2 separate regions of the Homo sapiens genome follow, and region 2 is linked to region 1. The links come from fine-mapping of genetic effects on gene expression. A gene starts in region 1. The other region holds a variant in brackets. All regions are shown on one strand. Distances are between the middles of the regions.

The links. PIP is the estimated chance that this variant, and not a neighbour inherited with it, causes the effect.
Region 2: its variant is fine-mapped to the expression of CLDN15 in whole blood (TOPMed, PIP above 0.99).

The regions. Positions count from the first base shown.
Region 1 is chr7:101,236,848-101,239,641 of GRCh38, reverse strand. CLDN15 (claudin 15) reads left to right here and starts at 1,840. Exons shown (of 5, transcript NM_014343.3): 1 at 1,840-2,277. The coding sequence starts at 2,061. FIS1 (fission, mitochondrial 1) reads left to right here. Exons shown (of 5, transcript NM_016068.3): 5 at 1-170.
Region 2 is chr7:101,208,866-101,211,659 of GRCh38, reverse strand. It overlaps PLOD3 (procollagen-lysine,2-oxoglutarate 5-dioxygenase 3), which reads left to right. Exons shown (of 19, transcript NM_001084.5): 12 at 1-69; 13 at 987-1,128; 14 at 1,216-1,329; 15 at 1,499-1,567; 16 at 2,703-2,794. Among named protein-coding and RNA genes, the nearest start is that of PLOD3, 7.3 kb to the left of the region's middle. The variant C/T (reference allele first, on the strand shown) is at 1,412.

The DNA of each region.
Region 1 (2,794 bases):
TGTAAATAAAACGGGGCTGTGGCTTGGGAACCCCCGTGTCTGCGTTGAGGGGAGGGGTGGGTTCTGAACGCTGGGCACAGGGGGCGGAGACGTCACTCCTGGTCCTCTCCTGCCCCTGCCCTCCAGGTTGGCACGGGGTTCTTTGTCCACCCCGCAGCCCAGAGCCCACACCCTTCCTTCCTCCCTTTCCTGAAGCCATGTCCTTGAGAGTGCCGGGCAGCTCGGAGACATGGGGCTTTTCCATGGTCCCAGAGTCCTGGGAGAAGGCAGTGACCTGAGCATGGGCGGGCAGAACTTCGGGGCCAGGCCGGGCTTCAGGCCTGCATTCTCCTCTGACCCACTCAGCTACTTCTGTGGAGTTTTCCACAGCAGGCCCCCTTGGCTTCCTCCTCCCCACCCTCCCCTCCCTTTGTCTTCCTGTGGCCTCCCCTTCCTCCTACCTCCTCCTCTGGGGGAGGGGGAGCCCAGTAGGGGAAGGAATCCTGCATCTGGCATGGAGTAGGCGGGGGTCCCGGGAGAGGTCAGAGCCCAGGGAGCCCCAGCTCTCGCCTGTGGGCTGGAAGGTCAGGACTCAGCCCCACCTAGCCAGCTTCGCCCCCTCGTGCCAGGCTCGGCATGGGCCTGTTTTGCTTCACCGCATACCTCTCGTTCCACAGCCCAGGCCAGCACAGGAGTAGGGAGGAGACACCTGAGGGGAGGCCGGAGAAGCCCAGCAGGGCCGTGGGGCCAGGGAGGTGCGCAGCCAGCGCTGATGGCCCCCAGGGACAGAGCCCTAGGGAACCGGAGCAGGAGATGAGAGTGTCTGCTCTGGGACAGGTGCTCTGCACTGGCTCGGGATGGGGACCAGAGGCTGCTAATCCATCATCATTAACGAATAGAGTGGGTGACAGTCCCTGATAACTGGGAACAGGTTGCAGAGCTTAGCCACAGGATCACGCTCCAGGCTGTTGGCCAGCAGGACCAGGCTCGATGCTGAGTCAAAGATCAACTTAGGAGGAAATTTGAGTTTTGGGTGAGAGCGACTCCCTGGTGGCCTCAGCCCTGTGACACTCACATCCAGGACAGTTCCCGGTGCCAAGCGCTGGTTATGTGTGGGGGGCTTGACTCCCTGGTCCCAACGAGGTCTCAGTGTGTTGCCCAGGCTGGTCTTGAACTCCTGAGTTCAAGCAATCGTCTCAGCCCAGCCTCCCAAAGTGGTAGGATTACAGGCGAGAGCCACTGCGCCCGGCCCCTGGTCCCAGTTCTCACCACAGCCCCTGCAGTAAGCAGTCGGGTATGTCACTGACAGAGCAGAAGCTCAGGGGACTAAAACTCCCCGCCTGAGTTCCCTGGTGAATGGATGGTGGGGCCGAGTTCCATTCCAGGCTGGATGGAGCCCAGAGCTGTGGGTCTCCTACCCTCCCATCCCCTCATTCCAGCTTGATCTTCCTTAAGAGACTCATACGCCCCAACCCCTTGGTCTGAGTATCTTAGATTGTTCTCGTGGTTCCTCCGTCCTTCACCACTGAAGGCTGCTGTTCATTCTCTCTCCGTCTCTGTCCCTTATTGCTCTCACGTCTGTCTCTGTCATCTTTTCACTCCTTGTCCCTCTTACTCCGTTCTTTGGCCCCCAATGAAAGCTGAGTCAGAGACAGACGCTTCCCCTCAGTTCCCAGTGCCTCCCTTGGGGGCCCCTCCTTGGCTGTATCCGTCAGTGGCTCCAGGGTAAGTCTGCCCCCCCCACCCTCGTGGGGCGGGGAGCCCGGGGCAGCCCAGAGGCTGGGGGGAGGGGGTGGACTTTTGGCCCGTTTCGGTTATTCCCTCCATCTCGTCAACAGCTGCCGCGCGCAGGCTTAGCTCATTCCTCTGACCTGCCAGGAAGCAGAGAGACCCACAGAGCAGGAGGGAGGCAGAAAGTGGAGACGGACCTGAGCCCGAGGAAGAGGCAGGCAGAGGCTGAGGCTGATTCCACCCCAGCCTGCCTGGACAACCCTCCTTAGCCGCAGCCCCTTCCAGTTCCCTAGGGGTTCTGCCCCTCCCCCTCTCTGGGGCACCAGCCCCCCAGGGTCCTGCATCCCACCATGTCGATGGCTGTGGAAACCTTTGGCTTCTTCATGGCAACTGTGGGGCTGCTGATGCTGGGGGTGACTCTGCCAAACAGCTACTGGCGAGTGTCCACTGTGCACGGGAACGTCATCACCACCAACACCATCTTCGAGAACCTCTGGTTTAGCTGTGCCACCGACTCCCTGGGCGTCTACAACTGCTGGGAGTTCCCGTCCATGCTGGCCCTCTCTGGTATGGGGTGGGGAGCGCTCCAGGGAGAGAGGGCGGCGGGGAAGCTGCAGAGACCCCAGGGGAGGGCGGGTACTTCCGTGAGGATGCAGGGAGCCCTGAATTAAGCTCTGCGGGTCTGAGTTCCCGCAGCCAGGAGTGCTGGGGGCGGCCCATGCCTAGAACTGGAGTGAAGACCTTGCCACACGTGGCCCCCTGCGCTAGTGTGGCGCTTTTAGCTGTTACAGGTGCAGGCACCAGAATCAGACCCCCTTTCCCAGCCCTGTGCTGTGGGCAAATGATGAAACCAGCTTCATCTCCCACCTGTAGGGTTAGGGTGAGAGTCCCAGTTCACAGGTGACTGAGAAAGTGCAGAATGTTAGCGTGATGTTAACACACATAGGCACTCAGTACGGTTGAGCATGTTTTGGGGGTGGGATTGCTGGGGTGGGCAGGGGGAGGAGGCCCCATCTTGGATTCTTAGAGGTTGATCAACTTCCAGGCTCCACAGACTCCCCAGCCTCACTGTCGGGGGGCACTG
Region 2 (2,794 bases), 28 kb after region 1:
CGCCCTGAGCCCCGATGAGTACTACGCCCGCTCCGAGGACTACGTGGAGCTGGTGCAGCGGAAGCGAGTGTGAGTCCCGCCAGCCTGCAGCCCCCCGCCTCCTCCGACCCGGGGCCCAGGTAGACCCAAGCCCCCTACTCTCAGGGGTTTGGAGTGGTCACCAGTCAGAGGTGCCATGAGGCTGGCTGCAGTGGCTCACACTTTTGATGCCACCACTTTGGGAGGCTGAGGTAGGAGGACTGCTTGAGCCTGGGAGTTTAAGATCAGCCTGAGCAACGTAGCAAGAGCCTATCTCTACAAAAAACTTAAAATATTAGCTGGGCACGGTGGTGCGTGCCTGTGGTCCCAGCTACTACGGAGGCTGAGGTGGGAGAATCACTTGAACTTGGGAGGTTGAGGCTGCAGTGAGCCATGTTTCCACCACTGCACTCCAGCCTGGAAACAGAGGGAGACCCTTTCTCAAGAAAATAAAAAACAAGGGCCGGCCGCGGTGGCTGACGCCTGTAATCCCAGCACTTTGGAAGGCAGAGGCAGGTGGATTACTCGAGGTCAGGAGTTCGAGACCAGCCTGGCCAACATGGTGAAACCCCATCTCTACCAAAAATACAAAAATCAGCCGGGCATGGTGGCTGGCACCTCTAATCCCAGCTATTTGGGAGGCTAAGGTGGGAGAATTGCTTGAACCTGGGAGGTGGAGGTTGCAGTGAGCCAAGATCACACCACTGCATTCCAGCCTGGGTGACAGAGCAAGACTCCGTCTCAAAAACCAAAAACAAGAAACAAAAAAGAAGTGCCACAGCTTGGGGTAGGAACTGACCGCATTTTGGGAGGTGGGGTGGTTGGGACCAGCAGTGCTTGACAAGGGACATGCAGGGGCCTTATGTTCAGGGACTGGGATACCCTGAGGGAAGAAGGACTTCCCGGGATGAGCTGGGCAGAATTTGGGGGGCTGTCCTCCCAGCTGACCGCGGTGTCGGTGCCTCCAGGGGTGTGTGGAATGTACCATACATCTCCCAGGCCTATGTGATCCGGGGTGATACCCTGCGGATGGAGCTGCCCCAGAGGGATGTGTTCTCGGGCAGTGACACAGACCCGGACATGGCCTTCTGTAAGAGCTTTCGAGACAAGGTGAGCGCGGGTGCACGGTCTGGCCTGGGGGCAGTCCCCCAGACTCCAGGCATCGCCTGCATCACGGACACCCCCACCCCACTACAGGGCATCTTCCTCCATCTGAGCAATCAGCATGAATTTGGCCGGCTCCTGGCCACTTCCAGATACGACACGGAGCACCTGCACCCCGACCTCTGGCAGATCTTCGACAACCCCGTCGTGAGTGGGGACCCCACGCCCAGAGCACACAGGTTCCCCGCCTTGTGCTAAGGAAGACACCAAACGTGATGGCTGCTGCCAG[C/T]GCAGGACACTGAGTGGGAGGGGGCGGTCCCCTGGGGGCTGGGAGCGAGGGGGGCACAGATCTGATGTGCCCCCCACCCTCTCACAGGACTGGAAGGAGCAGTACATCCACGAGAACTACAGCCGGGCCCTGGAAGGGGAAGGAATCGTGGAGCAGGTGAGCCCACGCAGCCTCCCCACCCACCCCCTGCCCTCATGGCCATCGCCTCTTGGGGGCCCCCGCCTGGATTCAAAGTTTTCACACTGAGTTCCCCAGAGATCTGAGGGTTTTCTGTTCAGACAAGATGAAGGCAGAGGCCGAACAGAAAGGACTCTTGCCCCCAAAGCCAGCATTGATCAGACAGCCTCTTCTCCTGTATATTGGGTATACTGGTGTTATGCTTGAAATCACATCTTAAAAGAAGAATGGGGCTGGGCTCAGTGGCTCATGCCTGTAATCCCAGCACTTTGGGAGGCCAAGGTGGGTGGATCGGTTGAGGCCAGAAGTCCAAGACCAGCCTGGGCAACATAGCGAGAATCTGTCTCTACAACAACAACAAAAAAATTAAATAAGAAATGAGGCCAGGAGTGGTGCTCATGCTTGTAATCCCAGTACATTGAGAGGCCGAGGCAGGCAGATCACCTGAGGTCAGGAGTTCGAGACCAGCCTGGCCAACATGGCAAATCCTGTCTCTACCAAAAAAAAAAAAAAAAAAAACACAAAAATTAGTCAGGTGTGATGGCGTGCACCTGTAGTCCCAGCTACTCGGGAGGCTGAGGTGGGAGAATCGCTTGAACCTGGGAGGCAGAGGTTGCAGTGAGCCAAGATCACGCCACTGCACTCCACCTTGGGTGACACAGCGAGACCCTGTCTCAAAAAAAAAAGAAAAGAAAAAATTAGCTTGGCATGGTGGCATGTGCCTGTAGTTCCAGCTACTTGGGAGTCTGAGGCGGGAGGATCGCTTGAGCCCAGAAGGTCGAGGCTGTAGTGAGCTATGATTGTGCCACTGCACTCCAGCCTGGTTGACAGAGCAATACCCTATCTCAAAAAAAAAAAAAAGAGGTATGCACTGTTACGGAAGTTTGGAAACCACTGTCCCAGCACGAGGGGCTCCAGGACCCTCTGCCACCTCTCCTGTGCCAGAAACCGGTCCTCAGCCTTGCCACTCCCTCAGCCCCTACCTGGCGGGTCCCCGGCTGCTCTCACAAAGCCTTCCCTGCTCCTCCCTGCCCCTTCCCATTCTGCCTGCTGCCTGTCCCCTTCCCCGTTCTGCGGCGTCAGCTAGCCCTGTTCTCCCTCGCCCCATCCTCAGCCATGCCCGGACGTGTACTGGTTCCCACTGCTGTCAGAACAAATGTGTGATGAGCTGGTGGCAGAGATGGAGCACTACGGCCAGTGGTCAGG